Linked DNA regions of Homo sapiens: all the other regions are linked to region 4. The links come from fine-mapping of genetic effects on gene expression. A gene starts in region 4. Each other region holds a variant in brackets. All regions are shown on one strand. Distances are between the middles of the regions.

Region 1 (8,107 bases), 74 kb after region 4:
GAAGCACCTACTGTGTCTTTCTGCTGGCTTGGGTTCCTATAAGTCAACTGTGAGCAACTGGAGCCAATGATCAAACAAAAAATTAGCCAGTAACACAGGCAGGGTATTAGAAAAGAGCTCTGAAGGATGTACTACTAATCCAGTTCCTGTACATGGGGAGTGGAGCTCGAAGAACAATGTCATGGCAGATAGGCACACAGCCAGTGTTTCTCAGGAGGCAGGGAAGTCACCAATGGCTACTTCCTCCTGAACACTACTTCCTGGGGCCTGGGACCCTTTCCCCTTTGGTACAGGAAGCCCCAGAAGCCACAACCTGAGAGTTTTGAGGTGATGCCTCCTGCTGCTGTTCAGGAAGGGATGTGATGATGTGGCTTCTGCTGCTTCCCCTACTGAGGGAGGGGCATGAACTTGCCACCCTGATATGTCAGTAGAAAGCCTTCTGCTGGGCAGTGTTCTCAGGGTGCATAGTAAAGATGGGCATGTGGGTTTAGTCTGTTCTGGCACTAGCAGCTCCCCTGCAGTTACATCAAGGCAATTGCTCCAGACACTGAGAATGAAAGCCTTTCATGTGCTCCCTGGCTACTTGCCCACAACCCTGGAGTCTTGTATCTGCAAGTGCTGGATGGAAACCTCTGGTTGCACCTGGGATGATTTCAGATGGGACATACATGGGTATAGCATTAAATAACAGGGATCACGTGGTGGGAAACATATTCTCTTCTCAATTCTCCATCACTCCTTCTGATAAGAATCTCCCTGAGACTTTGTCCTTGATGTACACAACTCCCAGCACCAGACCAACTTTCATTTTCTTTCTGACACTAGCAGGATGAGCCAGCTCCAAATGCTTGGAGCCTGTGAGAGGCAGGAGCATCCAACTGGAATTCCATGGCATTGAATTGGATTTTATTGTATTTCTCTTTATGGCTTCCTTCTATTATGGAAGGTGGTGCTAGTTTTCTCCTTATAGAAAGGAGGTAAATTTTGTGTGTAAAATACATTTATTTTAGTAAAATTAGGTGAGTGGATTGAAGGCAAACTTTCTAATGATACATATCTGTCAGAGTTCTACCAGAAAAAACAGAGGCATAGGAGATATATAGGAAGAGATCTATTGTGAGGAATTGGCTCGTTTGGTTGGGGGGTGGTCTGGCTAGGCAACTCCAAAATCCACATTGCAGGCTTTCTGGAAGGGCAGTCTGGAACTCTGAAGCATGGGCTGACTCTTGAGTCTGCAGGTGGAATTTCTTCTTCATCAAGGAAGCCTCAGTTTGGCTCTTAAGGCTTTTAAGGCTGATTGAATCAGACTCACCCAGATTACCTAGGATAATCTCTTACTTAAACTCAACTCATTATGGGCCTTAATCGCATCTACAAAATACCTTCACAGCAACACCTAGGTTGGTATTTGTTGGAATAACTGGGAACTGTAGATAGCTAAGCCGACCTGTAAACCATCTCATTATATAACAGCAAGTGATACAGAGTCTGGTCCAGGCTGTGAAGGAGATCAGTAAATGATGAGCAGTTGGCAAACCTAAGCCTAGCAGGTAGGGGGAATGGCTAAGATGTTAGAGTCCGGGTGAAGGAGCCGGGAGTTTGACGTCTGCCTGGGAGTGAGGCTTTTTATGTTGGGTAAAGAAGGCAGTAGGGGGTGGGACGTGAAGTGGCAGGGAGCAGAACACAGCATCCTGCCTTTTCTGCCTCCTCTTCTTAGGTACCTTTTCCAAGGGGCCAGCTTTTGCTTGCTTCTACTGCCCTGATTTTATCACTGGTATCTGTTCTACTTAATAGGGATAAGTTTATTCTTAGTCTCTGAAAAAGGTGGATGCCAATCATTTAACCACACAGTGACTGCAGTGCTCACAACCCCACCCTATCTCCCATGGCACCCCTTTTACTGAAGACTTAGATGTCAGAATTATTGATAGACTTCATTTTTGCAACTCTGCAGTCACCTCATCCAATGATAATGGTCACCGAATTGGAAATGGAATTACATAATTATTAATCATCAAATGGTTTTTTTCTCCAGATTGAAGAAACAACTAGGACGGTCCAGAGGGAACTTTTTCTGTGAAGGCAATTAGAAAGAGATATAGAAATTGTGCTAAGATGAGAAGATTGACCTTATGCAAGTCTCCTGGGGACAGGAGGAGGAGGGGAGAGGAGTCGATTTTACTTTTTAAAGACTAGGATTTTCTGTTTCCTATGGAGACCTTAATTAATTTTCTGGACGGTGAGCTGTGTCTTTGTGAAACACAGAGAGCTGATCAGATTTCCGGGGCCTGACCTTGGAGTCATGGTGGTAAGCCAACATTGCTGCTGACATCTGAGATTGACGTGCTGACAGGTGAAGTGTGGCCTGGAAATCTCTTTTCCATGACTGCCAACTGTACCGTTGTTTGTCAGGGTAATTGCTTTGTGCCAGGCCTCTTCCCGAGCTTTGGAAGCAGGAGTTCCTGCTGGTAGACCAGTTGAAGGGTTGGATCACTTCCTAGTGCTAGTGAGGGGGGATGGGGGATGGGTAGGTTTGGGTGCCTCTTTATTATCACTGGTATCTGGGAGGCAAATACTTTGCTGAGGGTCTCTAGGGGTAAATTGTCATAAGTCCATTGATATGAGAAAAGTACATTTTAACTCTGTTTTTGCGGTCTGAAATTTTCAAGTTTGCAGATAACATCAAGCCAGATAAATAGGTCTCATTTCAAGGGCCAGCCTTAACAGAGTGGTAGGGGTTGCCTGGAGGGCAGAGAGGATTCCAAGCCTTCCCTGAGTGGAAAGGGGAAAGGATGATGCAGCTCTTACTAAAGTCCGTCACGGTTAGCGTGCGTGTGGGTAAGAAAGTGGCAGAGGAATGAAAAGCCAAGCTGATAGTGATGAAACTATAGAATGTAAAGGTGAATACGACGACCAGTGGAGAATTTCTCTGCTCTGTTTCCTCAGTTAGATTGCAAACTACCTGAGGGCAGAGTTTGGGACTTGTCCATTCATAAGACAGTGACTTTGTCATGTCTGCTCCCCTCAGAGCTCTGATCCTGCCAAGGATATTCAGCTGTGGTGATGAATAATGCTGATTTTTCTGAAAGACGGGGAGGTAGGCTCGTGGCTCACCTTGGAGCAGCCCTCCACCTGAGTCTCCTTTGGATTATTTGGGATTTGCATTTGGCTGCATGGGATGCTAGCTTGACTTCGTGGCTTAACCCCAGGTGGATTTATTTTTTCTCACATAACGAGAATTCTGGAGGTGGAATTGCCACGGGCAGCAGCTCTGCCATGGTGTCAGTTTTCCAGGTGTGACCTATCTTTGCACTCCACCATCTCTAGCATGTGGTTTTCATTCCCCTGCTCGTTGTCACGTGGTGGCAAGATGACTGCTTTCCCTGTTGGCTTCAGATCCATGGTCCAGGTAGGAAGGAGAAGAGGGGAGGGCATCAGACACTTGCTAGTCTCTTTTTATCAGGAACATCCAGCAGAATTCTCTTTCCGTGTGTTTATATCTCACTGGCCAGAATTGGGTCACATGGCTGCTTCCAGATGCAAGGGGATCTAGCAGGGTAATTGCTTTGTGCCAGGCCTCTTCCCAAGCTTTGGAAGCAGGAGTTCCTGCTGGTAGACCAGTTGAAGGGTTGGATCGCTTTCCAGTGCTAGTGAGGGGGGATGGGTGGATTTGGATGCCTCTTTACTATCACTGGTATCTGGGAGGCAAATTTTCTGAGGGTCTCTAGGGGTAAATTGTCATAAGTCTGTTGAGATGGGAAAAGGTATATTTTAACTCTTTTGTGGTCTGAAATCTTCAAGTTTGCAGATAACATCAAGCCAGATAAATAGGTCTCATTTCAAGGGCCAACCTTAACAGAGTGGTAGGCGTTGCCTGGAGGGCAGGGAGGATTCCAAGCCTTCCCTGGGTGAAAAGGGGAAAGGATGATGCAGCTCTTATTGAAGTCTGTCACGGTTAGTGTGCATGTGGGTAAGACAGTGGCAGAGGAATGAAAAGCCAAGCTGATAGTGATGAAACTATAGAATGTAGAAGTGAATACTAAGACCAGCGGATAATTTCTCTGCTCGGTTTCCTTAATTAGATTGCAAACTACCTGAGGGCAGAGTTTGGGACTTGTCCATTGGTAAGACAGAGTGACTTTGTCATGCCCGCTCCCCTCAGAGCTCTGATCCTGCCAAGGATATTCAGCTGCAGTGATGAATAATGCTGATTTTCTGAAAGATGGGGAGGTAGGCCCGTGGCTCACCTGGGAGCAGCCCTCCACCTGAGTCTCCTTTGGATTATTTAGGATTTGCATTTGGCTGCATGGGATGCTAGCTTGACGTCATGGCTTAACCCCAGGTGGGTTTATTTTTCTCACATAACAAGAATTCTGGAGGTGGGATTGCCACGGGCAGCAGCTCTGCCATGGTGTCAGTTTTCCAGGTGTGACCTATCTTTGCACTCCACCATCTCTAGCATGTGGTTTTCATTCCCCTGCTTGTTATCTCATGGTAGCAAGATGACTGTTTTCCCTGTTGGCCTCAGATCCATGGTGCAGGTAGGAAGGAGGAGAAGAGGGGAGGGCATCAGGCACTTGCTAGTCTCTTTTTATTAGGAACATCCAGCAGAATTTTCTTTCCATGTTTATACCTTACTGGCCATAATTGGGCCACATGGCTGCTTCCAGATGCAAGGGGATCTAAAGGGACATAGAGAGGTTTTATGCTTAAGCAAGAAGGGCAGAACAGACATTGGGTAGACAAACAGCAAGGATAAGCACAGCCTCCCAGCCACCTCTTGCCCTGCCCCTGTGCCCTGAAGACATACCCTTCACCTCCAACCACATTCCTTCCAGCTTGTAGCCTCCCAAGGATCTTCTTCTGCTTCCTCCCCAACCCTCTTCTACTCCTGCAGCCCCTGGGTGGTCACGGAGATGCTTTGCTCACAGATATCTTCTCTGTGGGGAGCACAGTTGCTGAAGAGACTCAGCTGCC[T/C]ACTTTTGGGTCCACTGTGACGTTCATGCTGAGACCACGCTTCCTGTGGGCCCCACCCAGCCAGTGACTGAGCACAGTGAGGACACTAGAGTTGGCCATTCCTGCTCGGTGTGGGACTCCTCGAATGGGCAACCTTTGCTCGGAGCCTCTTGATCCACCCGGCAGAGACTTTCCCAGAGCTGGTCTACACTCTGAGGCTCTTTCTAGCCAATCTTCCTTTTTCCCTTTTTCTCCTGTTGTTGGTGTTAGACCTGCATTGTGACCCAAACATTCTCCTCTCCTCTCCTGCTCCCTTTTCTTCTATGCTTTACAGACATTTCCCCAAATAAATCTCTTGCATATCTATTGCTCTCTTGACATTTATTTCTTGGAGGACTGAAACTGACATGCCTGCCTTCCAACATATTCGTGTCCTTTCTCTTACCTGGAAAATTTTCCTTGTCTGTGATCTTTGGTTTGCAGTGAGAGAGGCATAGTTTTACCTGTAATCTCCTCGTTATCCCCTGACTTCTTATAACAGGAGTGTCCAAGATGGATTCTTTGTTTGAATTCTTAGGCTACTTTTTTTTCTTTCCTTTTTTACTTTTCTTACTTTTTTTTCAAAATCAATCAATCACATTTGTTGAGCATCTGTTATGTGCTAGGCCCTGTTGTAGGTGGTAGGGGATACCAAGATTTATCTGTCTGAGGCCCTACCCTGGTGGCGTTCACAGGTTGGTGGGTTTAGGAAAGAGCCTCATTTTCCATTGGTGGATGATATGTTCTCCCCACCAACCATCTCTCTAAACTCTGGCACCTTTCTTGTCCAGCATTTCTACCTTTTGAGCCTCTCTGCCACTTTTCTGGCAAATTACAGAAGAAGCAAAGCAGTTGTTGCCCCTGCATCCAGCACATCAGAAGTCCAGGTAATACAGGCCTGGAGTAACCATGGCAACCTTAATGGAGCTCAATGACCCAGCATAAATCTGGCCGAGCTCATTGTGAAATGTGAGGGAGCTCTGTCTGCTTCAAACCGTTTGGAGGGAAAGGTGCCTTGCACTCCGTGGGTGACTGACAGAAGGTTTCCCCAGAGCGCAGAGGAAAAGCCGGGGGATGCGACACTCAGAGTGAAAAGGAAAGGAAGACTTGATGTTGACGAGGAATGGTTTTCTATGGTCTGTTGACATGGCCTGCTGAACCCGGCTGACATATTCATCTGGTCATTTATTTCCATGCTCTGGGCCTGTCTTGAGCTTGCTAAATACATTTAAAAAAAGCTCCAGCTATGGAAGGAACATGAAACATTTTCAATACAACTACACACGTGCATGTGCACCCACCGTTTCAGGCATGCAGATGAGATGGAACTGCCTGGTGCTCAGCTCCTTAACGAATGTCCGTTCTCTCCTTTCCCTTTACCTGGCTGGGAAGGGCTTCACGTGGTGTGTACTGCTGATGCCGCCTTTTGTGCTCCCTTTGCTGGAAGCTGCCTTCCACATATCCTCCAGGCTTTGACCCAAGTGTCACACCCTCAGAGTGGCCCTCCCTGACACTCAGAGCAGGTGCCCACCCTTGTGACTATCATCGTTTTCCTTTTTTTGTGTGTGTGTGTTCCCACACTGATTTCTTTTTGTGCCTGTTTGTGATCATTTTCCTCAGTATTGCGAATTCACAGGGAACTACAAGGAACACTTCAATCTTGAAGGATTTTTTTCCCCTAGAAGCTGCTCTTACCTGTTCCTCTAGATGCTGTGGCATTTAGGTAAATTCTGGCTGCAGGCAGTCCATTCATTCTCACCTGTCTGAGAGCACAGTGCTTCTACTCTTGGGTAGCAGGGAATCAAGCATAGAGGAGCGGTGTGGGAGGGCAGCAGGAAGAGCTGGTACGACTCTCCATTTCATGTGTGAGTGTGGTGCTTATACCCCTTTATACTATTGCTTTATTAAAAGCAATCTGAGCTATGTACAGCAAGCTGGGAGGTCGCAGGTAGAACCACACAAGTGTCTCTATTTAATTCACAAGCTGATTACCTCCTGCTGTTTCTAAAACAATAAAAGGAAAAATAAACACTCCTCAACCCTGCCTGTTTTGAACTTCTCTTTCAGAAGATGCAAGTCCTGATCCTTTGGTAATAGCTGTGCAGTAGAAAGGCTTGTGTCTACTGTCACTCTCCTGGGTTCTCATCTCCTACCTCCCTTGCAATCCTGATAGGGATAAACAAGATTACTGATCAATTGAATGGCCTATGGCTGGAAGATAATTTATTTTTTTATTTTTATTTTTTGCCTTTTCTATTTTTTTTTTCAATTTACTTTAAGTTCTGGGATACATGTGCAGAATGTACAGGTTTGTTACATAGCTATACATGTGCCATGGTGGTTTGCTGCACCTATCAACCCGTCATCTAGGTTTTAAGCACCACATGCATTAGGTATTTGTCCTCATGCTCTCCCTCCCTTTACACCCCAGTGCCCCAACAGGCCCCAGCATGTGTTGTTCCCTTCCCTGCGTCCATGTGTTCTCATTGTTCAACTTTCACTTATAAGTGAGAACATGCAGTGTTTGGTTTTCTGTTCCTGTGTTAGTTTGCTGAGAATGATGGCTTCCAGCTTCATCCATGTCCCTGCGAAGGACATGAACTCATTCTTCTTTGGGGCTGCATAGTATTCCATGGTGTATATGTGCCACGATTTCTTTATCCAGTCTATCATTGATGGGCATTTGGGTTGGTTCCATGTCTTCGGTATTGTAAATAGTGCTGTAATAAACATACACGTGCATGTGTCTTTATAGTAGCTTGATTTATAATCCTTTGGGTATATACCCAGTAATGGGATTGCTGGGTCAAATGGTACTTCTGGTTCTTAGATCCTTGAGGAATTTCCACACTGTCTTCCAGAATGGTTGAACTAATTTACACTCCCACCAACAGTGTAAAAATGTTCCTATTTCTCCACAGCCTCGCCAGCATCTGTTGTTTCCTGACTTTTTAATAATTGCCATTCTGACTGGCGTAAGATGATATCTCATTGTGGTTTTGATTTGCATTTCTCTAATGACCAGTGATGATGAGCTTTTTTCATATGTTTGTTGGCTGCATAAATGGCTTCTTTTGAGTAGTGTCTGTTCATATCCTTCACCCACTTTTTG
Region 2 (8,107 bases), 130 kb after region 4:
GGATGGATGCCTACTCAGGGTGTGTTGGATATCCCTTCCTTCTTCTGATTTTTCCACCTTCCTGGAGTCTTGCTTTCTCTGTAGTCCATATTGCAGTCCCACTTTCATGAGGACAAGTTAGCAGCATATGCTAAATTAATTTCTGAGATCTTGGCTACTAAGTGTTTATGGTTTAATAACCACCTTCCTGGCTACTGACAGAGGAAAGAGATGGGAAAACACTCAGAATCCATAGGGATGACTCTGTAACATGGAACTCCAGGCTCTACCAGAGGTTGGGGAGAAAATCACCATGTAGGAAGTGGCTAACTCTAAGCCCCTGCTAGGCTACCTTCTGACCGTTTGAGAACATCCAGTACTTGAAACCCTGCACCTAGCGTTTTTGTTTCTCTGCAGTTGTTTAGCTCCTCTTCTTTCTGGTCTCCTTTGCCTTGATTTTTCTCCACTAAAAAGTGGAGGAAAAACAGAAGGAAACAGCCATCTCCCTTCAAATGGGCTGTGTTCACAGTTTCCATGGAAAGAACCCGCCCCTTGAAGGGCGGCAGAAGAGGTGTTAGAGTCTGACAAATGTCAAGAGAAATTGATCACAGGAAGGTAAGATGCCAGGGAATCAATGCTGTCCCTCCTGGGGAGACACATTGGACAGACAAGCTGTCAGGAAGGACACGCACAGCTTGTACCTTGTAGCTGTGTTTGGGGTAGAGGAGGGAGCCACCTCCATCCATCTTTGTTTATTCAACATCCTCAATGTGTGCAGTATAGCTCTCAGTGATATGAAGGGTACATATGTGATCTCTGGCCCCAGGAGCCCCAGACTCACCAAGGAGGCAAAGCATAGAACTCAGGAAACTCTTGGCAACTCATCTTGAGGATGTTAGGTTCTCAGCCAAGGTTCAGGAGACCCAGAGGTGAGTTCATCCTACTAGGCTCAGAGCAGCTTCCTGAGAGAGCTGAGCCTGATAGCCATAACAGCAGGGGTGACTATTTTTTAAAGCCTGTTCACATCTTCTTTGCACAGAGTGAGACAAGTCAGACATGTTGCAATAAAACTCTGTTCATAACACTAGGGAAGGCTCATTCTGGTGCTTGGCATGCTAAGTGCTGTATGTCTGTCAGCTGCTCTAGTAAGTGTTATTATTTTGTTGTTGTGGTTTTCCAACCTTTTTGGTCAAAGTCTCAGACACCATGCCTGGGTGAGGCTGTCATTGCAGAGGTATACTGCTATGACTCACTTGAAAATCCTTTGATGGCTCTGAAGCCCAAATTTCATTGTGGTCCCCTCCCCAGGAAATTGCTGCTCTACTTATGGACTTAGAGAAGTTACTCTGTTCCTGGGCTCCTGACGACCTGTCCCAGGTCATCACGGCCATGCCCCTTGAACTGGATGCTTCTGCCATGCTGAGCTATCATGTGGGTCATGCGTACTCATGCCTTTGCCCAGGTAGCTCCTTCTATTCCTCAGAATGCTGCTTCCTCCCACCGTGCTCCACCTGGAGGACACCTACTCATCCTCAAAAGCTTCCAGCCTCAGCCCTTCCCCTGCACCTCTGCACAGTCTCAGCAAAGAAGGCTGAAGTGCTCCTCCTTTGTGTCCCAGCACACTGGACACACACTTTCATCACAGCAATTCCTTTGCATCAATTTTCCCACCAGCCTCTAAACTCCTTTAAGGGTGGGGACTGGACCTTGCTCACCACTCTTCCTTCACCCAGCTGCTAGCACTGGCCTGGTCCATGGTAGGTCTCTACACATGTTTGTTGAATGACTAAAGGACAATGAGGGGGATAGAAACAGCACCAGACTGAGAATCAAGGGACATGAACTCTAGACCAAACTTGGTTGGGGAGGAAAATAGCTTTGTGACCTTGGCCAAAGCAGCCCCACCTGTGTGAGATTACCTTCACAAAAGCACTTGGGAAGTACACATAAGAGGTCAAGGTTCACAGACAGCTGTCTTCATTTCAGGGTAGGCCTGTGACCAATGTGGAGAAGAGCCAGGGGACATGCTTCTCATCATGAATGGAAACACACAAAGGTTGGCTTCATTCCAAATATGAAGCCCTCAAAGCCAGTAATTTAGTTTAATCATCTACATGAATTGAATGTTTAGTTCCGGAAAAGATGCACAGCGCCTGGAGTTTGGTTCCAGTGCCCCCTGTTGGCTGGGCTGGATGACTTTGGGGAAGGCCTCTGACTCTTCAGGTACCGCAAACGTGCTTGTCTATTACTTGTCAAATGTAATTGTCAAATGTAGCTGCCCTCACAAGGATGCTGCAAGCATCACGGCAGGTGATTAACAGGAAAGCACTTGGGAAGCCATGGGGTGCTTAGAAACAGAGGGGTTGCAGGAGTGGCTGCTGTGGGAGGCCCCCCATCCCTCCACCCCAGGTGCTGAGAGTCTCGGCCTTGAGGGTGCACAGCTGTGGCCTTCTCCTGAGACCTGTCCTCAGGGGTACAGGTGTCTCATCACAGAGCATCCCCTCCACTCTCCCTACCTCTGACAGCCCCAGGCATGGCAGATGACATGGAGGAAGGCTGGCCTCCTTGCCATAGGAGGGGAACAATGTGTGGTGCAATTGGTGCCCCAGCATGCTCCTCCAGGGTAGCCTGTAAATCCCTAAGCAGTGTCTCTTAAGTGCATTGCTGTCATAGTCATTCGGTAAGTTCTCCAGAGAAGGTCATCTAATCGTATATCAAATATCAAAGTCAATAATAGAATAAGAGTGACTATAGCTTTCAAACACAGCCTTCACAGCCCTGGGGTTCTGGAGGCATGCCACTGGGACTGCTGGTGTGTGTGTGTGTGTGTAAAAGGGAGCCCAGAGGGTGGTGAGGGCTCCCCTGGACTATTCACCCTCCACATTTTGATGATGAGGCAGCTGAGGCCCAGAGAGGTGAAGTGGTTTCCTCAAGATCACACAGCTAGTCAGAAGCAGAGCAGCGTTCAGAACTCAGCTTCCCTTAATCCAAGATGAATACCTTTTCCATGGCACCTCTCCACCAGCCAGAGCCCTGCCAGGAAACACAAGTCTGATGGATGATTTGGTGAAAGGAAGACTTTCAGAGCAATGGGCAGGGTTATGAGGATCAACAAGGGATATTGAGGCACCCACAGACAAGCAAGAGCAGGGGTCTTTACCACCTCTTGGCTTGAAGCATCAAGGTCAGAGAACAGTGTTATTGGAACCCAGTGAGAGCTGAGGGGGGAGAAGTGGCTGCCCAGTAGGGGCTGACGTGCAGAGGGGAGAAGACCCTGCCAGCACAGTGGCCCAAAGAGGGCCCTCTGACCCCTACCCGACCCTCGAATCTTCTTGCCTGCTGGTAGGCAGGCAGCAAAGGAGCCCTGAAGATGCATTTCCTGGAGGCCACCCCCAGGGCAGAGAAGGATGGAGATTGATGCCAAGGAAGCAAACAGAATGACCAGCACAACTTCATGATGCAGCCATTCCCTCCATTCAGGGTAGTGGACGGTGACAGGGCAAGACTCCAGCACATTGCAGGGCAGCTTTCCTGGTCCCTCTGTGTAATTTGTAGTGAATTTGGTATTTGTGAATGTGCCTCGTGTTCCCTCAGCTTCAGAGCCATCTACTGTTCTGAGAGGGGCTTGTCTTCCTGAGGACCATGGTGGAGGAAAATGCTCCTCTTGTGAGACAAAGGGAATGAGTGACAGGACAGAGAATTTCCTGGACGGCTCTGTACCAGAAATGTACCAGGTTCCACAGTAGATGGGCTCTGCAGAGTTGGCATGAGTGATTCACAGGAGTGTGCTTGGTGAGTTTGGACAAACATTGAAATTGGGTTTTGCTAACAAAGCCCTACTCCACCATGAACAGGCAGGGT[A/G]CCTTGAATCCTAATTTTCAGATTCTGAGGGACAGCATTTGCATGCTGTCTCTATGAAGAACTTTATTCAAAGCTCACTATTGATTGTGGTCTTGCAGGTCCTAAAGAGAAAACTTGCTTCTACAGAAATTTATGATTCATGAAATGCTGTCTCCTTTATAAATTCTTACCCCTGAGAAGCAGACCCTCTCCTTGGCAGGAGTTCTTCAGGGAATACCCTGGGGACCAAGCAACACTCCAGTTATTTTTAAATTGAGCATATTCACACTGATTTCAAGGACAGTGTATGCGCTTATTGATTCAATAAACATGATCCTGCATAAGGAATTATTGAGTAGAAGGCTATGCTGGAAGGTGGAATTGAGAATCTGCCCTCACGTTCCCAGAACTCAACAGGACCAAAGGAAGTGATGCACGTTGAAACTATGATTCTGTTTTACACGGTCAGGCATAGAGCATCTGCCACTACAGCCTGTTGGCTGCTTGCCTTGCCATGCAAATTTGCTTTCCATCCAGGCCAATTTGCTCTAGTGAGGGTCTCCCTGGATGTCATTAGCAATGCTTTATCTTCTGATTATGTGAGGAGTGTTGTGTCTCTGAACATTATTGCCTGCAGATTCTGGTGAGTGCAGTGAAGAAAGTTGATGGTATCTCAGTAGATCGTCTTATTGACCCTTGGGAAGTTTCTTCCTCTCCTTTGCATTCTTTTACTAGGGCTTTAGAAAATCTGTTTAACTTCGAGATATTCCCACATTATATAGGCTGGATATGCAAACATCAGCCTACAAGGATCAGCTCTTTGAAATGTCTCATAAGTCTTAGCAGAAATTGTTAGAGAAGCTGAGGTACAGCTTAGCTTATGTAATTATATGGACAAGCTGGGCGTGGTGGCTTATGCCTGTAATCCCAGCACTTTGGGAGGTTGAGGTGGGTGGATGACTTCAGTGTAGGAATTTGAGACCAGCCTGGGCAACATGGCAAAACCCCATCTCTACTAAAAATACAAAAAATTAGCTGAGTGTGGTGGCACATGCCTGTAGTCCCAGCTACTCCAGAGGCTGAGGCGGGTGGGTCACTTTAGCCTGGGAGGTCAAGGCTGCAGTTAAGTAATGATTGTACCACTTGGGCAACAGAGTGAGACCCTGTCTCTCTCTCTCTCTATATATATATATATGAACAAGCTAAGAATGCCTCTACCTTTTAGTGTTTGGTAGCGGTGACAACTTATCAGCCATTTCCTTTTCATTCCTCTTTTACTCAATAAATATTTATTGAGAAACTATTGTGCATAAGGCATGTGGTAGGCACTGGGGATATGGCTATAAAAGAGAACCAAAAAATCCTGTGTAAGTGTAGCTTTTTATTTAAAATGTGTTGGAATCTTTTGGTTCATCCATCCATCCATCCCCCATCATCTATTCATATGTTTGTTTCACATTGACTTGCATTACCACATAGTTCCATGTGGCTGAAAGAGCTTCAGAGAAACACTAAGCCCCACGCCATTATCTATAATTTAGCTAACAGGTCAAGTATATCTACAGCCTATGCAGACTGTGGAGACCATGGTGCCTGAGACCCTGTTAGTAGGACTGGAGGATTGGGGTATAATGTTTCCCATGTGATGAGAAGGATATAGAATGTCATTTGAAAGAGGGAGAAAATCTTATGGTCCATAACTTTTCTCTGGTAGCTCTTGATATTTAAATTTATAACCTTTCATTGATTGCTGCATGCATTCATTCAAGAAATGTAGATTAATCTTCGGCCATTTGCTAAGTAATAGGAATATAGAGATGAATACAATGTCATCTGTACCTTCAAAGGGTCACAGGCTAGAAGATTAATCTAATCCTCAGGAAATATGAAGCTAGAAATCAAGATGTGTCTCCTTTGTTCTCCAATCTCAAGCTATTTGACAGTTTGAAAGAAGTGCTCTTTGTGTACTCATGACTCTTTTCCCAGAAGGTTGGGTCAGGTTCTCAACATCCCGTAGCAGTGGACTTCAGCACCTGCACCTGCACCTTTGGGATCCCTTGGTGGCAGGGTTTCTGGCAATCAAATGTTCATGTAGACTTGGGCTGGGTGTGGAAACCCAAGGGTAGCATAGAATTTTTCAGCTGGCGTTCTGGGGCCAAGACTGCCCAAACGTAAGTCTAGCTCTTTGCTTACTAGTTGGATGACCTCAGGCAAAGTTACTTACCTCTTTTTCCTCCCATTTACTCATATGTAAAATGGAGATAATTATAGTCTGTAAATCATATGTAGATCTCTTCTGTATGGAAGTGTGGTGGTGGGGCACGTGATTGTGTATTTCTTAAAATGCATAGAATGACAAACCACAAAGAATATATTTTACTGTATGTAAATATAGAAAAATCAACCAGGGTGTCTGTATGTGTGTGTGGGTGAGTTAGAATGCAGACTTAGGGCAAAGGAATGTAACTGCATTTAAAACAAATCACGTAATTCCACTGAAGGGAAGAAAGGAGTTAACCGAAGGAACCTTGGAATGCAGTGTATCTAGTAAAACAGGCAAAAGAATTGCACACAAACATAATACTCTAGTTGATAAACTTGTTTCTCATAAAGGTTTGGGTTAAAAATTCTGAAGCTGCTTAAATTTATCCTGATCATGACTAATGATTTTTGAATCTGAGGAATCTCTCTTTTACCCTGAAAAATTCCTACGTCATGTTTTTGGATGTATCCTTTCCTTCATCATCTATTTTCCTTACTTCTTGCTCTTTATTCCATACTCCTTACTTCTCTTTCACATTCCCCATCTGCTATCTCTATGCAATACTTTCAGTAAATTTTGATATTGAATGTCCATTTACTGATACTCTCTTTGGTTGGCTATGTCTACAGTTTAACCAGTCATTTACCTATGTTTTCTCTTTTTCTTTAAATTTCAGTGATTATATTTTTATTTCATAAAATTCTGTTTAAATATGTCTAAAACCAATTTTTTTCTAAATTATCCTTTTATTGACTCGGAGCTTCTATACTTATGTTTATCTTTTTGAAAAATATTTTACAACAGTGTTAAAAATGTTCCATTTAATCTATTTTAACTTTATTTTTGGAAAATTTTACGCTTACAGGAAAGTTCCAAAAATATTACCAAGAAGGCCAGTAAACCCTTTACCCTGCCTCCCTGTATATTAGTGTTTTACATAACCATAAAATAATAATCTCTGAAATTAACCTTGGTACAGTATCATTAAACTACAGAATTTATTCAGACTTCAGCCATTTCTCCACTAATGTCCTTTCTCTATTCTAAGATCCAATCAGATCCCATGTGGCATTTATTTCTGTATTTCCTCTATCTCCTTCAATCTGTGACAATTTCTCTTTCTTTCTTTGTCTTTGGTGACCTCAACACTTTTGAGGAGCACTGGTCAGTTATTTTGTAGATGGTTCCCTCAGTTCAGGTTGTTTTAACATTTTCTCCTGATTATACTGAGCTTATGTATTATTGGGGAGATGCTGCAGAGGTGGTGTGCCTTTCTCAGTGCCTTGCACCAGGAAGCACATGATATTGATAAATACTACTGATGATGTTGACCTCAATTCCTTGGTTAAAGTGGCATCTGTCAGGATCCTTCACTGTAAAGCTACTATAGTCCCCTTTTTAATTACTAAGAATTTTGGAGATACTTTGAAACTATATAAATATTCAGTTTCTGCTTAAATTTCTCCCCACTCATTTTAGCATCTTTTTATGGATCTTGTCTGCATTGATTATTTTTGTGGTGTTTTAATAGTGATTTTGTATTTCCCTGATTCTTCCACATTCACAAACTGAAATTTCTTCTGTAAAGAAAAGTTGTCTTGTTTCCCTTTCTCTCTTTTTTAATTTGTCTTAACATGGACCTATGGAGATTTATTTTATTAACTGGGGGTGTAATTCAGTTCTACCCCTACTTGTTTTGTTGCTCAAGTTATTCTAATTTTGGCTACTAGGAATTCTTTCAGGTTGGCGTCTGTGCTCTTTCAACATGGCACCATCTTTTTAAAAAGCACTTCTTTAATTTCTGACGTCAGAAGAAGATGCAGACTCATCTTTCATTTATCCTGCCTCAAACGTGGTATCAACCTGTTCTCCAAGGAGCTCTTACTTCTTTTATTGAGAAATGGTAATTAGAAACCAAGTTCTGGGTGCAAGGTGTGCTCACTGCAACCTGGATATCATTGTCTTAGCAGACAGAAGTAGAAAACATGTGTGTGTGTGTGTACTAACTCATATACACACACAGCT
Region 3 (8,107 bases), 230 kb before region 4:
GCAAAGCAGTTTGGACTTCAGCTGCACCTGTGTTGACACACGATTTCTTCCTGAGCTCCTCCTGAGCACAGCCTCTCCCCTTATTTATATTCCCATTGCTGAGCACCCAGCAAAGGGCATGGCACACTCAGCATACCCAGGACTGGCTTCTTGCATGATCCTGTCACAGCAACAGCGTTCAGCTCAGAGAGGTGGGAACTGGCCAGTCAGGGTGCAGCCCACCCACATCAGCAAGAGCCTCCTGAGCTCTCCCAGGGGTCTTCTCCAACCATGAGAACACTGAGACTCCACAGCTGGCTGCTGGACACTATAGGGGCCAAGGACCCAAACACTAGGGTGCAGCTGGGTGGCCAAAGTGGGGCTCCCTTCCTCCCTCTCTCTGTAGACTCATCCTCCCAGCTTTTCCCTTGTTTTTCCTAAGGTCCTGGGGAAGCATGATCTTCTCCCCGTAGGCTGCCTTCCTGCTGCCCCTTCCTCCTTCCAGCTCCACATTTCCCCAGTTATGAGGCTTCTTCATCTGGGGGAGGCCACTCATCAGCATGTTGTCCAGCCTTTTGTGGCTAGTTTTTACTTCAGGTGTGGGGATAGGTGTGTGACTTCGGCCCCTCTGATGCCTTGGTCTCGAGCCAGCTAGGCTAATGCAACCCTTCTGCTTTGGGATGAGACAAATCCCCCAAGCTCTCTGCAGCCCAGATTTCCCACCTGAGACAGCCCAGCCAGCCCAGGAAAGCCATATGAACCCTATGCTGCCCATCCTGCTTCTTCCACTGAATTGCAGGGTGACTTGATTGGGTCACTTCCTTTTCCCCCTACCTCCCCTCCTCACCCCCAGGCCTTTTCCTCTCTGGAAATGAGACCATCATCCTGGCCCAGCCTCCTTCCCTCCTGGTGTGACGTAGCAGAGAAAGACATCAACCTATTATTTAAACACGTGTGTGCAAGTGCCTGTGTCTGTCCACATGTGCATGTGTGCAAGTGTGTATGCGTGCATATGAAGCTCCCTGAGAGCTGTCACGTTTGGCAGTTTCAAATCTGAGCCTTCCCGGGATGCCCCATCACAGGTAACACTCCCATCCATCCTGGCCCTGGGCTGCAGCCGCTCTATCTGCCTGTTTCTTTTGGCTCCTGGTTCAACAAGTATTCCTGTGGGACTATGCAAAGCCTCTATCTCTTTCCTCATCCTTGCTAAAGAAAATTTTAACTGCCAAGCATTTACTCCTCTCTCTTTTTCTTATTAAGTAGAGCAGCTCAATCAGCAGGGTTGGGGAAGAGCCAGAGGAGCGGGGCTGGGGAGAGGCCCACCAAGGATGGTTGAGATGGACTTCCAGAGAGAAGAGGAAAAAGCGGGGGAGGAAGAAAGAGAACACACTCTCACACTCTTTCTGGGGAAGCAGTCAGGGATGTTTTGAGGTGTTTTGGTGGAGAGTAGAGAGAGAATGTGAGGCTTCTGGGTTAAATCTCCAAAAAAAGGAGAGATTTAACGACATGTTGCTATGTATTGCATATCTGATCTCACTTTATGTTCTTTGAAAGATCCGAATAATATTTTTCATCTAAGAGGGCATCAATTGTAACTCTCTCATCTTTATTTTTTGTACAATTAAGAAAGAAAACGACACAGTCAATTAAACTCTAACACACATTTGTTAAATACATCCTAGTTTCAGGAATGTTAAAATGTAAAAAAAATTGTGTGTATTAAAATATATGGATAAAGTTCTTTTAGATTTTTTAATACACAACATGCTGGGACTGGACTGCATGGGGCTCTTAAACTTCTTCTGCTGACAGTCGTGCATCTGGGTCAGGTCCTCTCCTCCTCACCCTGTTTTCACCCTGTAGCCCTCATAGCACCTACTGCATGTGCCTGCACATAAGACAAACTCATTTAAGCAGTTAAAGGTTGAGCAATCACGTATTCTCAAGGGGCTGTAGTCAAGTCCTCTCCTAGTCTTCATAGATTTTTTTTTTTTTCATTTTAATGACAATCTGAAAGATGGGTAGAAAAATAGGTACATGCAGCCAGGCACAGTGGCTCACAACTGTAATCCCATTCCTTTGGGAGGCCAAGGCAGGCAGATAACTTGAGGTCAGGAGTTTGAGACCAGCCTGGCCAACATGGTGAAACCCCATCTCTACTAAAATACAAAACTTAGCTGGTCATGGCGATGTGCGCCTGTAAACCCAGCTACTTGGGAGGCTGAGGCAGGAGAATCACTTGAACCCAGGAGGCAGAGGTTGCATTGAGCTGAGATTGCACCACTGCACTCCAGCCTGGGCAAGACAGCGAGGCTCCATCTCAAAAAAAGAAAAAAGAAAAATAGGCATATGCACAGAACCATATCCACACATTCCCCCATACCCATACCATAGTCTGGACATCTGGATGGTCAAATGACTTGACCCCTCCACCCCCCACACCCACCCATGTATGTTTAGGTTTACGATAGCGTTGGTGCCCATAGTGTATTGATTGCTCTGATTATCCCAGGCTCTTGAGGAGAGTATTGATGGAGACTTAGTACACAAAGAACATATTTGTGCATGCAGAAGGCAGTGTGGTTTGCAGTGGTTTAAGAAAGAAATGTCTTTAGAGACTGGGGACAGATCAGATTGCCTGAAGGGAAGGAGGTTTTATGGCAGAGCCCTTAAAGACTTCCATCATCTGAGGGATATGCAAAGAGCCTGAGAAGCAGCGGCCAGAGAATTAGGAGGAAATCTGGGAAAAGTATGGCATCGAGGACATCTGAGAATGAGAATATTTCAGGAGTGAAGAGTTTTGTTTACTAGAGTTGAATGCTCCTGATTGGTTGTATTAGTTCAGTGTTTCAGTAATTCTGAGAGTAAGTAAGTAGATTCAGAGTGTTAAATGGCAAAAGTGAAAAAGCTCAGACAGGTCAAATCGCATTTGAGTGAGTGCCATTTTTAAACTGCAATGGCTGGTGTGACATAATGAATTTCCATTGACTTATGAATGGTCTAGAGAATCATTCTCCATCCCCAGCTTCTAATATCTGAATCCCTTTTGCCTTGATCTATCAGCCATGCCTGAAGACCCACTGGATTCCAATTCCTGAATCAAGTCTGGCTAAGATAGGGAACATATAAACAGTCATACCCCAACATTGTTGATGGGAGCCACAGAGAGAAGCACCTGCCCTTGCAAACACACATAGTACCCACCACTGCAGACACACACACAACCTGACCAAACCTGGGTCTGGTTGCCTCATCCTGCCTGCTGGGCTAAGCCAGACTGGCTGCAGGACATGGTGCCCTCAGGGGCAGGGATCCTGCCTAAGAATCTTTTCATCACCTTTAATCCATTCTCCTGCCTGGTGCTGGCCTCAGGTTCTCCCAGGAATAGGCCCAGCCACTAGCCTAGGCACTAACTTCTTTTACCCTATTGAACTGATGTTTTACATAAGTTATTTTTGCCTGTGCAATATCCCTTCCCTCTTGTTCCTGCAAGAAAACCACTGCTTATTGCGGGAACCCATTCCCTGTGATTTGCATGGGCCCATCTGTCCTGTCCTTCCCAGAGAGGTGTTCACATGATCCAAGCCTGATTAATCAGAGAACCTCATCCTCCTCATCACAGCAATTGATTCAGGATGAGGAACATAATCCAAATGGGCCAATCAAAATGTTCCCTGTGATTTTGTCAGTACCATCAAAAAGACACACTCTAATTCTGAGGTTGCTAGCTGTAAGTCAATGGTTCTCGAAGTGTGGTCTGCAGATCCCTGCATGAAGTCAAAACTATTTTTATAACCACATTGAGATTTTATTTGCCTTTCTCACTGTGTTGACATTCACACTGATGGGGCAAAAACAATGGTGGGTAAAACCACTAGCACCTTTGCTGTTCTGTGGGAAAAAGTGAGAGGCTAGGAGGCTGAGCGGTAGTCAAATGAACGCTGTGCTGCCCATGCTCTGCCCTGTAGTTACAGAGATCATGTCCACTGTCATACAGCTCCAGGGCACCATGTAATATGGTAGTCTATGAGAGTGGTCCCATCAGAGTTGTTCAGTGCACAACCTACATGGGTGTGCCCAGTGGTCCTGAGAGCTGTGCTCTCCAAACTATGTTCCATGTGACTCTGGTGCCACAAAATACAACTCACAAAAGAATGCCACAGTTAAATAAGCTTGGGAAGGCTGCATTCTATATACTTCTCTCTTGAGACTCTCAATGGAAAGCCACACAGAAAGGTTTCACAATCAAGTAACCTGGTTATTTTATTAACCCCTGTTTTCCCCAACTATTTCACCATGCAATCATTTTAATTCAAGAAATATTTATAATGTACCATGGAACACTGAGCTTTAGCAAATGCTCTTAAACACCATTACAAACTTCATGACAGCAGAGACTGTCTTATTTTCTGCAGTGTGCAGTATGCTCATGGCCTGATACGGTGCCTGACACATGAGAGACCCTTGAAAAATTTGTTGAATAGATTAATGAATCCATGAATGATTGATGCTTTCACAAGTATCTGATCTCCTTAGTATTCTCTATATTTACAAAAGGTGAGGTCCTTGTAGTGCATTATTTATGTTATTTTGCCAACACTGAACTCTGTGCTGTGGTCAGTTGTCTTCCCAAAATGATATGTTTTTCAGGATGCAGTGAGATTTTATGCATTTGATTATGTTCCCTCCGTGAGCGGGGCTGGGCAAGCAC[A/G]ACTGTTTCCCATTACCCAGCCTCTCTGAGGCCGCCCTTCTTCTGTGGTTTGAGGTGGAGAAGCAGCACAGGCAAGCCCTTCCCAGCGGTTTTTGTGTGGTTGACAGAGACCTAATGCCAGCTTTGGAAAAGGAAAGGCCTTTAGCAGCTCTGACTCTGCTCAGTTGGGAAATAACGAAGCCCCTGGGACGTATTCTCTGGAGTTGTCAGGCTCAGACTTGTGTTTCCTTCTTTGAGAAGGAAGGGGCACCAAGAACAGGAGTGAAAGTGTCTTGGAAACCCCAAGGTTTTAGAAAATGCAGGACTTGGAAGATTGAGGCCAGAAAGAGAGAGAGCGAGAGAGAGAATGAGAATACTTTACTCTCTAGTATCCTCAAGTGCAGGGGCTGACAAACTACAGCCTGAAGCCAAATCCAGCCCACTGTCTGTTTTTGTGCTGCCCTCAAGCTAAGAATCAATAAAAAAATTAAAAGAATATTTTATGACATATGCGAATTATATGAAAATCAAATATGAAATACATAAAATCTCTTTACACATCAGCATTAGCAGATGAACATTTGCAATTGATTTTAATGATAGAACACTTTGAGCCCCAACTAAGGAAAATGCTATTTATGAAAAAAGAATTTTAATCTTCTTATTAGGAGATATGTTTTATCTAAAAACTGTATTCATTATTATACTTTGAACTTCACTAATACAAATATCATAGGAATTTGTTTTCTCTTCTGCTTTTTAAGTACCTATATCATAACCTCGATTTTGCCACTTGCCTGGGAATCCCAGATTTGTTTTGAGACAGAGTCTCACTCTGTTGCCAAGGTTGGAGTGCTGTGGTGCCATCAGGCTTATTACCCTGCCAGGCTCAAGCAATCCTCCCACCTCAGCCTCCCAAATAGCTGGACTATAGGTACTTGCCACCATGCCCAGCTGATTTTTAATTTATTTTGTAGGGGCGAGGTCTTACTATGTTGCCCAGATGTACTAGCTGATTGCTTACAGAAAATGTCTGCCAATCCCCGCTCAAGTGGATTATCTTCAATGACTTAAGCTGTTTTATATGGCAGGGGAAAAGGGAGCCTAAGTAGATTCTTCCTATATTCATTTAGTCACCAGGTTCTTCTAGGAGTCTTCTATGGTCCTGAGTGTGCAATTGGTGAACAAAGCGGACACATGGACATGGTCACTGTCCTCAGGGACTTTACTATCCAGAGGCAGGTCACTGGAAATTGATCAGCCTGCATGTACATGTCGATAGGATGATGAGTCAAAGTGAACCCTGACAGCTTTGGAATTTGAAGTGTGTCAGCTGGTCAGTGAGTCACATTGCCCAGGGCACGGCTACCTAGAAGTGCTCTGTGTGAAACCTACCGGGAGGAAGGATCAGGTGAGTGCCATGAGACCAGCAGGGGAAAAGCCAAGTCCAGGAATGTCAACCAGGATAGGGCTGCTCTGTCATATTGATTCAGGCAGTTGGTCAGAGAGTTAGGCAAAAGCAGCACCAGCACATGAAAAACAAGGTGGAGAGCGGCATCCCAGGGCAAAGCTGCCTGCTAAGGCCTTCTTCACATTTTCTGCCTAGGGTAGCTAATGAGACGCCTTAGCCTCTAAGAGCTCAAGACTCCTGAGCACAGCAAGGGTGCAGGGATGGTCCTCTCAGGAGGCTAAGTACTTCTTTGTAACTTTGTTTCATTTATAACTTTGTTTCATTTCTTTGTTTCATTTGTAGCTTCGTTTCATTTCTTCAGATTAGAAATTTTTTTTTCCTTATGGCTGCAGCCTTTAGAGGAGTCCACAGTAATCGCCTTTTGTCCTCTCAGAAAATCTGTGGATAAGACAACAGGCACATCATCTTTCTCACAACTTACCACTGAGGAAACGGTACAGAGAGGAAGAAAAAAAGCATCCCAGAAAGGCAATCTAGATCACTCAGTGACTACCGCCTAGCACCTCCAGGAACAGAGGCAAAAGTTGAAAGCAGGGTGTGTCCCCAGGACATCCCTGCAACTCACCCTTTCTCCTCTGCTTCCAGAAACATCCAAGCAATGCCTCTAGGGCTAGTCATAGACTTAATCTTGTCTGCCTGGGTCCTTAAGATCTCAGATAGAATCCTGTAAGCTATTCTTGCTAACCCTATACCTCGGGAGCAGCCTAGCAATGTGAAATGAACATGGGCTTTGGGGCCGAATGAACCTCACCCAGAGCCTGGTTCTGCTACTCAGTAGCTCCATTATTTGACCTTGGCAATGACAACTTCTATAAGCCTCAGTAAATTTACATACAAAGCAGAGAGAATACTTTCAACTATAAAAAATGCGTGTAAAGAGAAGAGTCTTCTTCCTCACCAATCCAATACCCTTCCCAGACTTGTATTAATAATGCTTTGGTTCAAATACCTCCAGATTTTCCCTAGGCTTATACTGACACAAATATGTATAGATATAGATACACATGCATATTTTCACAAGCTACATATTACTGTACATATTGATCTGACACTTGCTTTGTTTCTATTCAACAATATGTGTATATCATTTCAAGTCAACACAGATAAAATATTGTACTATTCAGTGACTGTATAATATTCCCTAATATGGATAAATGATAATTAACACAACCTACTGATGGATGTTTTTCTTGGTTTAAATGTTTTTCTATTACAAATCTTGCTGCAATGGATGTACAGGTTTATGAATCTGTGTTATTATTTCTGTAAGACAGAGTACTGAACATGGGGTTGCTGGGTCAAAAAGGACACACATTTAACATTTTAGTAGATTCTATGAAATCACCTTCCTCCCAAAGTTGTGCCAGTCTACACTTGCATTAGCAGTGTGTGAGAGAACTCCAGATATCCTTGCAAGCACTCTGTACTATCAAGTTTTTAATTATTGCATTTCCTTGACAACAGAGAACATCTTTTTATGTTTATGGGCCATTTGCCTTTCCTCTGTGAATTCTTTGTTTATATTTCTTTCCTATTTATCTATTTGGATGTTTGAGTTGTTCTTACTTATAGGCACTTTTTGTACATTAAGCATAAACATCTGTTGGCAGAGAGAAAAGACACTGTGTTTTGAAGCTCCCAGGGGTGAGTATCAGGGTCTGAAGCAGGTACTGAACTGCCAGAGGTCTGTGTTTGATATTAGGAATATTAATCTTTCATGTTTTAAGTGTTGCAAATATTTTACCTAGGTCTATCATTTTTTTAAACTTTGTGCTGTCTTTCATCATGTGGAAGTTTAAAATGTTTCAATATTCAAATCTATAATAGTTTTCTTCATGGCTTCTGGGTTTCCTGTCTTGTGTAAGCAGTCTCCCCATGCTGATGTTATGTAATTATTTTCCTCTGTTTGCTTATAATACTTTTATGGCTCCATATATTTATAATTGCATCTTTAGTATATCAGAAAT
Region 4 (8,107 bases):
CACCTGGCTTAATTTTCCAGGCTGGGGCAGGATGGGTTAGCACGTTAGAAAGAGATAAAGGCGATGGCAGGACTCATCGCTTGTTTTTGTGAATACAGCAAGACTGATCCAGCAGTCAAATGATGAACATGGTAGGTGGTGAATAAGGCAGCTCCTTACAGCACCCCTGGAGTTGATGCTTTTCTTTTGGCTTCCATTAACCTTCAATAACGATGGGATTCCCAAGGGCTTCAGCACAGGTACAAAGAAGTGGAGGAATTAAGTAATAGCTTAGAGGAAGCAATAGAGTTTTCCCTATTGACTCCCCCCTTCCCCTTGTCAGCAATACAGTGAGTTGACAGATGATTGTAGCTTACTGCAGCATTTGGTTCCAGCTGTGCACACGGCATGAGTAGTAGCGGGAACATTGCATTCCCCACCTGTTCATCATGTTCAGACTAGCAAGTGTGTGTTTAAGTTCAGGCTGTGGTGGGGGCAGGGGTGGGTGGGTGGGGGGGTGGCCTGTGTTTATGTGTGTGTGTGACCAAATTGCTTCTATCTGTGAGGATTTTGTCACAGCCTAGGAGTCCAGGCTAAATGAGTCATGTTTTCTTTTTCTTAGACAGTCAAGTCTTTTTTTTTCAAAAAGTAAGCAATTAATATTCTCTCCCAGCCAGCTCCCTCACTTTTGTTAGATGAAGTCACCATCAAAGACATAGAAGCCAAGACAAATTTTGGTATTGCCTGATACTTTAGTTTCAGATATAACATGAGGACAGATGATTTATCTTAAGAAGCTTTCTTTTATTGGCAAATTACCTAGCTGATAGTTATAAATTTATCTTCCTCTACTTACATATTCCTTTTAGGAAAAAAGAGAATGAGAGAATCCTATACTTATATCCTTGAACTAGTTAAGCTACCTCAACTATTAAGAAATCCTGATTTTGGAATAAAATGCTAGCCATCGTAGTCACCAACTTCACCAACTTCTGGGCCCCTCTTGCCTCTTTGATAGCTTCAGTGTAAGTAGAATTCATTCATTCATACATTCATCCATCACACATTTATCAAGTATCCATGCTCTGTGTGTTATATTTTGGTATTTATTGAATTACTCATGCACTTGTTAAAAATGCAAACACCCAGGCCCCGCCTTCATCCTACTGAATCAGAATCTCCAAGGAGTAGGTACTAGAAATATGATTTTTAAAAAGCCTGTTTTAGAGATGCTCTAGGAATAGAGATGAAAAGGACAGTCCTTTCTACCTGCTAGATCATCATACAAATGAATAGATAAGCTAGAGCAAGAAAAGTCCATCTAAGCCATGATAAAATATGTATGGCACCCATGAGAGAGAGAGGTTGCTTCTACTAGGAGGAGGAGGGGTTGCCTAACCAGTTGGTGTAGTGCTTGCTCTCCATCAGCTTGGCTGTTGGGGAATGGTCAGTCTCCTAGAGTGTATGTGACGTTGCCTCCAAGAGTGGGCATTAGATACAGAAAGAGGGAATACATCTTGCCTTGTACTGTCCTAATCTAGTAGACATCAATGGACTGAAAGGACAGGGCTAGAAGGAGGATGTGCTAACTTGTCAATGTGCTCATTTCTGATGAACATTTTGCAGGTTTCTCTTTGGCAGTGCGATCAAGGCTGGAGATTCACAGTAAGGAACTTAGAAAGCTCATTGGGCTTACCACCAGGAAAAATAGAGTTCGGCTCTGTCCTTGCCACTTATTAGCTGGACAGTTTACTTAGTCTGTTGCCTAGTTTCCTCCATCTACAAAGGCAGATAATAAAATCTACATTATGGGATTGTTTTGGGAATTATATAATATATAGTACATAAACTGCTTGGCATTGTGCCTAGCATGTGGTTGGTGCTAATAGGTACTATTTATTTTTAGTAATAATATAAGTAATAATGGACCCCCATTTGGGTCCCCAGAAATGACTCCTTCTCAGGCCATCAAACCCAAACTCCATATTTACAGTGGCTCTCAACTATTTGCTCTGTCCCAGCTCCCTGGAGGGCTATGACACTGTCATAGCAGTCTCACTGGCTCAGGGCAGTGATTCTCAATCTGGGGCCCACTCTTTCTAGCTCAAGTTGGCTTCCTACCCCGGGTAATTTGGACACTGCCTCCTGTCCCCACAAGGGCACTTGCTCATCACTCCTGTCCCCCACTGAGATTTATTGCTTTGGGTGGTAAGTCTTCAGCAGGGTGTGCACACCTGCAGCTCTCAAGGAGTTTTGTCAAAATACACATGCTGCATCCCACCTTGGACCTGGTGAATAATTTCCCTGGTGGGGCATTGGTAAGTGTATTTTGTCTTCCTAGGAAATGCTGATCTATAGGCCTGGTTGAGAATTATTATATTTGTGGATATCTTTCTGCTCAGCAATGTCTCACTCAGCTTGCACAGCATGAAATCTTCTAGCAAAAATTAATGGTGTCCACATAGCTTTTCAAAGCTCAGAGATACTGACCCTGTGTGACAAACTGAGGAGGCAGAACCTTTGGTGATAAGGAACATGTGACAGGAATAAGAACTCTGTGTATAAAGGGGCCATGTATATCACCCTACACATGGTGCATACATCATGGTACTTAATAAAATGCAGCACTTGTTATTATTGGTATTCGTTGTGTATTGGCCTCAGGGTTCCTGGCTCTGAAAAGACCTGTTCCCATTTTAGGAGAAAAGACTCCAAATCAGGGAATTAAGAAACCACCTGGCTGTTTGGGAAGCATTTAGAAAATATGACAAGAGGTGTCATACACAGGCTAGCAGCAGAAATTTCAAGAAAGATAATTACTGTAAACTTTGTTTTTATTTCCTCTTTTGATTCTGAAATTAGGAAGAAGAGCAGTGTGTTGGAAGCTGGGGTGCAGATGGTAAGTGATGGTCTCCTAAGACTCAGTTCCCGAGTTCTACAAACAGCAACACAGCAAACCCCAGATTGCCACGGGCTCTGATTTTTGTCTCTTAGTATTCATACTTGAAGTGTGGGGTTCCTAGTTGCTGTGCAAAAATGACTGTAGCCATGTTTCCAACTGAGCCTACTGGCGATGTCCAAAGCCCCTGCCAAGAGCCTCAGAGCAGAGACTTTAGTAGAAGATGGAAAATGAGTGACTCAACAGAGCGAGGAAATTGTCTTCTCAGCTTCCTTTAGATTGTCCAGAAAGGGAGATTAGAAAGGCTCCTCAGAACTAACACTGGAAAGGGAGTTTATACCATTAGGGCAAAGATTGGGAGACAAAGGTACTGAAGTCAAATGAGACTTCTGTGAAATACTTTGGAAAGTACAGATTTTGAGACTACATGAACAGCAGCAGCACCAATAACTGTATCACTGGTGCGGGCTATAGACATCAGCTGGGAATGAAGGTGATTCTCAGGGCCCTTAATTTAGCCATCAGCCCCCAGCCAGACCTAAGCCTGCAGCTGGCTGCACAGAGAGGCAGCCTGTTCCATCCTTGGAATTCCAACTTAGGTGACTGCACAAGGCATTTTGGTTTAGTGGTTCCTTAAATAAGACGACATTCCTTTAAGTCTAATCTCTCTCCTGCTGAAATTTCCTACCCTCTTGGGTTTTACCATTAAACTGCTTGCTCTCATCTGAAAAGTGCAGCTAGCAGGGTGCAAGCTAGTGCTCTAGTGACCGTTAAAATCTATCCTAGGACAGCTAGCACGCACGGAAAAACTTGCCATTCGCCGCACACCCACTCCCCCCCGCCCCCACCGCTATTCTTATCAGAGAGAACATGGAAAATATTCTACTCCCTCTTCCCCTTATTGAAGGATGCTGTGTGTACATCTGAATGGGGGTGGGATGCGGGGCGGGAGTGGAGTCTAGCTTTCGGTCCTCAACAAAAACATAATGATTCCCAGCAAGCCAGAGCTGTGCAACCAAGGAGGCAGGATCCTGGCCTCTCTCGGATCTGCAGGAAGGGTGGGCTGTGCGGGTCCAGAGTGGGATGCCCGTTCTGGCCGGCGGTGCCTGCTGAGCCCTTCCTGATGTGACTTTATTAGACAAACCCCCACTCCCGCCAGGGGTAGACACACGAGTATCTGCTTTAGGAAGATTTCTGCAACACGGCAGGGTGCAATTCAAACTCTGGGTTCTCCTTTCCTGAGCTTAGAAACCAATTTGTTCGGAGATAGGAGAAGGCTCTGTTGGCAGAAGACCTAAGAGACGGGAGGAGGCGCCTGGCGTCAGCGGGTCGCTTCTCAGCCGTGACCACGAGCGGCCAGCAGGTGTCAGTGCGTCCTCGCTTTGCCCTGGCGCTCGGCTCCTGGACCCCTCCCCACCTCGGTCTAAGGGGGCGCGGTCCAGACCCCGGGTCTTGCGTTTCCCGCAGACAGCATCGCGGCTGGGAGGACACGTAGCCGCTTCTTCCCTAAGCGGAGGTCTGAACTCCGGCTTGTACCACTTCCCCGTGGGTGCTGTCCATTCCGCCCCAGGGGTTCCATCCGAAGCCGCGCCTTCCTCCCTCTCCAGGACCCCTTTCTCCCCAGCCTCCAGGAGCACCTGCGGACCGCGTCGGCTCTGGCCCGGAGCTGGGCTGCTCCAGACGTAACTCACACCGGAGGTTACTTCCCTCGATTTGGGCGGGGATTCCCTTCCATTTTTTTCTTCCCTTTTCTCCCAAGATCCAGCTTCTTGGGGGCACTCACGGGTGCCCGTTGCGTTCTGCTCCGTCGGCCCGGAGCTGCATGGCCAACTCCCAGCAGGGGCCGCTCCTCCCCTACCCCCCACCCCCGGGCTCCCTCTTTAAGTCTCTAGCTCAAGGTACCCGCCTCTCCAAAGGGCTCGTCCCGCCTGAGGGCAACGCTCCCCGAGGTCCAGCGCTAGGCGCGGGCGCTAGACTGGCGGAGGGGTGGTGCGAGGGGCGGGGGAGGGTCGGCTTCCCACGTGGGGGCTGACGCCGGCTGCTCAGCAACGCTTGCTTGATCCTGGGGCTATAAAACGAGTCCACCGTGAGCGCAGCGGAGCAGCAGCAGCTCCAGCTCGGTGCAGAAGCCCAGCAGCCGGCGTGCCGCCGCCCGGCCACTCCAGCGCCTTCTTCCCCGCCTTGCGCTCCTGCCCCAACTCGCGCTGTCGTCGGACCCCGGCCCATCCAGCAGCGCTCGGCGCCCACCAGGCGGACGCCCAGGAGAACCCCTGCCTCCGTCGCGGCTCCTGGAGAGCTGATCGTTCACCTGCCCCGGCCCGCCTGAGGACGGGGGTGCCTTCATGCGGCCCCCACACTCCTCACCCCGCCGCCGCCGCCGTCCCGGAGCTCCGCACAGTGTGCCCCAGCCCCAGCAGGGCGCACAACTTTGGAAGTCTCGCGGCGCTCCGAGAGGCGGCAGAGTCCGCGCCCCAGCCCCGGGCCGGGCCGGGCCAGAACCGCAGCGTCTGGGGGAAGCCAGAGAGTCGGTAATCGCTTCGGGGATGTAAGGCGACAGACATAGGACCCCCGAGCTCGCATCAGCACCCTTCGGCTGCCTCCCGGGGTGGGGGCGGGCCCCGCACACGGTAAGACCTCTTGCTTTCGCTCAGGCTCAAGATTCAAGATACAGATATTGATATGTATATATATATTTAATTTCCTGTCATCCTTCCAAGTTATCAGGCCACCGATGATTTTTGTTCTCCCTTCTTGAAGAATAAATCTCTCTTTACCCATCGGCTCTCCCTACTCTCTCCCGCCGCTTAGAAATAAAACTTGGCTGTATTAGGAGCTCGGAGCAAGAAGGCGCCCACCGAGAGCGTCTGAAGCGCGAGCCAGGCGCAGTTCGCGGGACCCGGGCCATGGGCCGCTAGCGGTCCTCCAGTTCGGGCCCGGCCTCCCTGCGGCCCCCTCCCTATGTGAGCCGCAGCCAGGCGAGCGGGGCGCCGGAGGAAGAGGAGGACCCACGGGCGCCGGGCCGGAAGGCAGCTGGCAGCAGGCCCAGGCCAGCGGGCGCCCGCGTTCATGTTCCGCCAGGAGCAGCCGTTGGCCGAGGGCAGCTTTGCGCCCATGGGCTCCCTGCAGCCGGACGCGGGCAACGCGAGCTGGAACGGGACCGAGGCGCCGGGGGGCGGCGCCCGGGCCACCCCTTACTCCCTGCAGGTGACGCTGACGCTGGTGTGCCTGGCCGGCCTGCTCATGCTGCTCACCGTGTTCGGCAACGTGCTCGTCATCATCGCCGTGTTCACGAGCCGCGCGCTCAAGGCGCCCCAAAACCTCTTCCTGGTGTCTCTGGCCTCGGCCGACATCCTGGTGGCCACGCTCGTCATCCCTTTCTCGCTGGCCAACGAGGTCATGGGCTACTGGTACTTCGGCAAGGCTTGGTGCGAGATCTACCTGGCGCTCGACGTGCTCTTCTGCACGTCGTCCATCGTGCACCTGTGCGCCATCAGCCTGGACCGCTACTGGTCCATCACACAGGCCATCGAGTACAACCTGAAGCGCACGCCGCGCCGCATCAAGGCCATCATCATCACCGTGTGGGTCATCTCGGCCGTCATCTCCTTCCCGCCGCTCATCTCCATCGAGAAGAAGGGCGGCGGCGGCGGCCCGCAGCCGGCCGAGCCGCGCTGCGAGATCAACGACCAGAAGTGGTACGTCATCTCGTCGTGCATCGGCTCCTTCTTCGCTCCCTGCCTCATCATGATCCTGGTCTACGTGCGCATCTACCAGATCGCCAAGCGTCGCACCCGCGTGCCACCCAGCCGCCGGGGTCCGGACGCCGTCGCCGCGCCGCCGGGGGGCACCGAGCGCAGGCCCAACGGTCTGGGCCCCGAGCGCAGCGCGGGCCCGGGGGGCGCAGAGGCCGAACCGCTGCCCACCCAGCTCAACGGCGCCCCTGGCGAGCCCGCGCCGGCCGGGCCGCGCGACACCGACGCGCTGGACCTGGAGGAGAGCTCGTCTTCCGACCACGCCGAGCGGCCTCCAGGGCCCCGCAGACCCGAGCGCGGTCCCCGGGGCAAAGGCAAGGCCCGAGCGAGCCAGGTGAAGCCGGGCGACAGCCTGCCGCGGCGCGGGCCGGGGGCGACGGGGATCGGGACGCCGGCTGCAGGGCCGGGGGAGGAGCGCGTCGGGGCTGCCAAGGCGTCGCGCTGGCGCGGGCGGCAGAACCGCGAGAAGCGCTTCACGTTCGTGCTGGCCGTGGTCATCGGAGTGTTCGTGGTGTGCTGGTTCCCCTTCTTCTTCACCTACACGCTCACGGCCGTCGGGTGCTCCGTGCCACGCACGCTCTTCAAATTCTTCTTCTGGTTCGGCTACTGCAACAGCTCGTTGAACCCGGTCATCTACACCATCTTCAACCACGATTTCCGCCGCGCCTTCAAGAAGATCCTCTGTCGGGGGGACAGGAAGCGGATCGTGTGAGGTTTCCGCTGGCGCCCGCGTAGACTCACGCTGACTGCAGGCAGCGGGGGGCATCGAGGGGTGCTTAGCCCCAGGGCACTCAGAAACCCGGGCGCTGCCTGCTCTGCGTTTCCTCGTCTGGGGTGGCTCTGCAGCCTCCTGCGGGCGGGCGTCTGCTGCTCCTACAAGGGAAGCTTCTTGCTGCCAGGCCCACACATCCCCAGTTGTTGGTTTGGCCACTCTTGACCTGGAGCCATCTTCCTAGTGGGCCACCCCTAATCACTATTGCTTCCTAAAGGTATTTTCACCCTCTTCGCCTGGTACAGCCCTCACAGCTCTTCAGAGCAAGCACTGGACTACAAGGGCATGGCTCACAAAAGGTTAATGGATGGGGGTTACCTAGCCCTGGCTAATTCCCCTTCCATTCCCAACTCTCTCTCTCTTTTTAAAGAAAAATGCTAAGGGCAGCCCTGCCTGCCCTCCCCATCCCCCGCTGTAAATATACACTATTTTTGATAGCACACATGGGGCCCCCATATCTCTTGGCCTTGGTTTTGATGTTGAAATCCTGGCCTTGGGAGAGATGCCTTCCAGGCAGACACAGCTGTCTGGTTCAGGCCAAGCCCCTTTGCAATGCAAGCCCTTTCTGGTGTTATGAAGTCCCTCTATGTCGTCGTTTTCACCAGCAACTGGTGACTGTCCCTTCGACACGGACCTGCTTTGAGATTTCCTGACAGGGAAAAGATTTCTGTCCATTTTTTTCCTGTGCCTAACAGCATAATTGCC

Alleles and levels. Alleles are on the strand shown, and positions count from the first base shown. SD is a standard deviation of normalised expression in the study named. Not every link is listed here.
For the expression in caudate of the gene that starts at base 4,977 in region 4, A is the low allele of the variant in region 2 and G is the other (small effect, 0.37 SD a copy in GTEx).
For the expression in prostate of the gene that starts at base 4,977 in region 4, A is the high allele of the variant in region 3 and G is the other (moderate effect, 0.45 SD a copy in GTEx).

The links. PIP is the estimated chance that this variant, and not a neighbour inherited with it, causes the effect.
Region 1: its variant is fine-mapped to the expression of ADRA2A in whole blood (INTERVAL, PIP above 0.99).
Region 2: its variant is fine-mapped to the expression of ADRA2A in caudate (GTEx, PIP 0.98).
Region 3: its variant is fine-mapped to the expression of ADRA2A in prostate (GTEx, PIP above 0.99).

Annotation. Positions count from the first base shown.
Region 1 is chr10:111,145,859-111,153,965 of GRCh38, forward strand. No RefSeq gene overlaps it. Among named protein-coding and RNA genes, the nearest start is that of HEAT2, 36 kb to the left of the region's middle. The variant T/C (reference allele first, on the strand shown) is at 4,978.
Region 2 is chr10:111,205,579-111,213,685 of GRCh38, forward strand. No RefSeq gene overlaps it. Among named protein-coding and RNA genes, the nearest start is that of HEAT2, 95 kb to the left of the region's middle. The variant A/G (reference allele first, on the strand shown) is at 3,841.
Region 3 is chr10:110,846,424-110,854,530 of GRCh38, forward strand. It overlaps LOC124902499 (a long non-coding RNA gene), which reads right to left. Exons shown (of 2, transcript XR_007062287.1): 2 at 4,217-6,518. Among named protein-coding and RNA genes, the nearest start is that of PDCD4-AS1, 20 kb to the right of the region's middle. RefSeq lists an enhancer at 6,371-6,420. The variant A/G (reference allele first, on the strand shown) is at 4,691.
Region 4 is chr10:111,072,053-111,080,159 of GRCh38, forward strand. ADRA2A (adrenoceptor alpha 2A) reads left to right here and starts at 4,977. Exons shown (of 1, transcript NM_000681.4): 1 at 4,977-8,107. The coding sequence starts at 5,945. The coding sequence ends at 7,342. RefSeq lists a silencer at 4,940-4,989.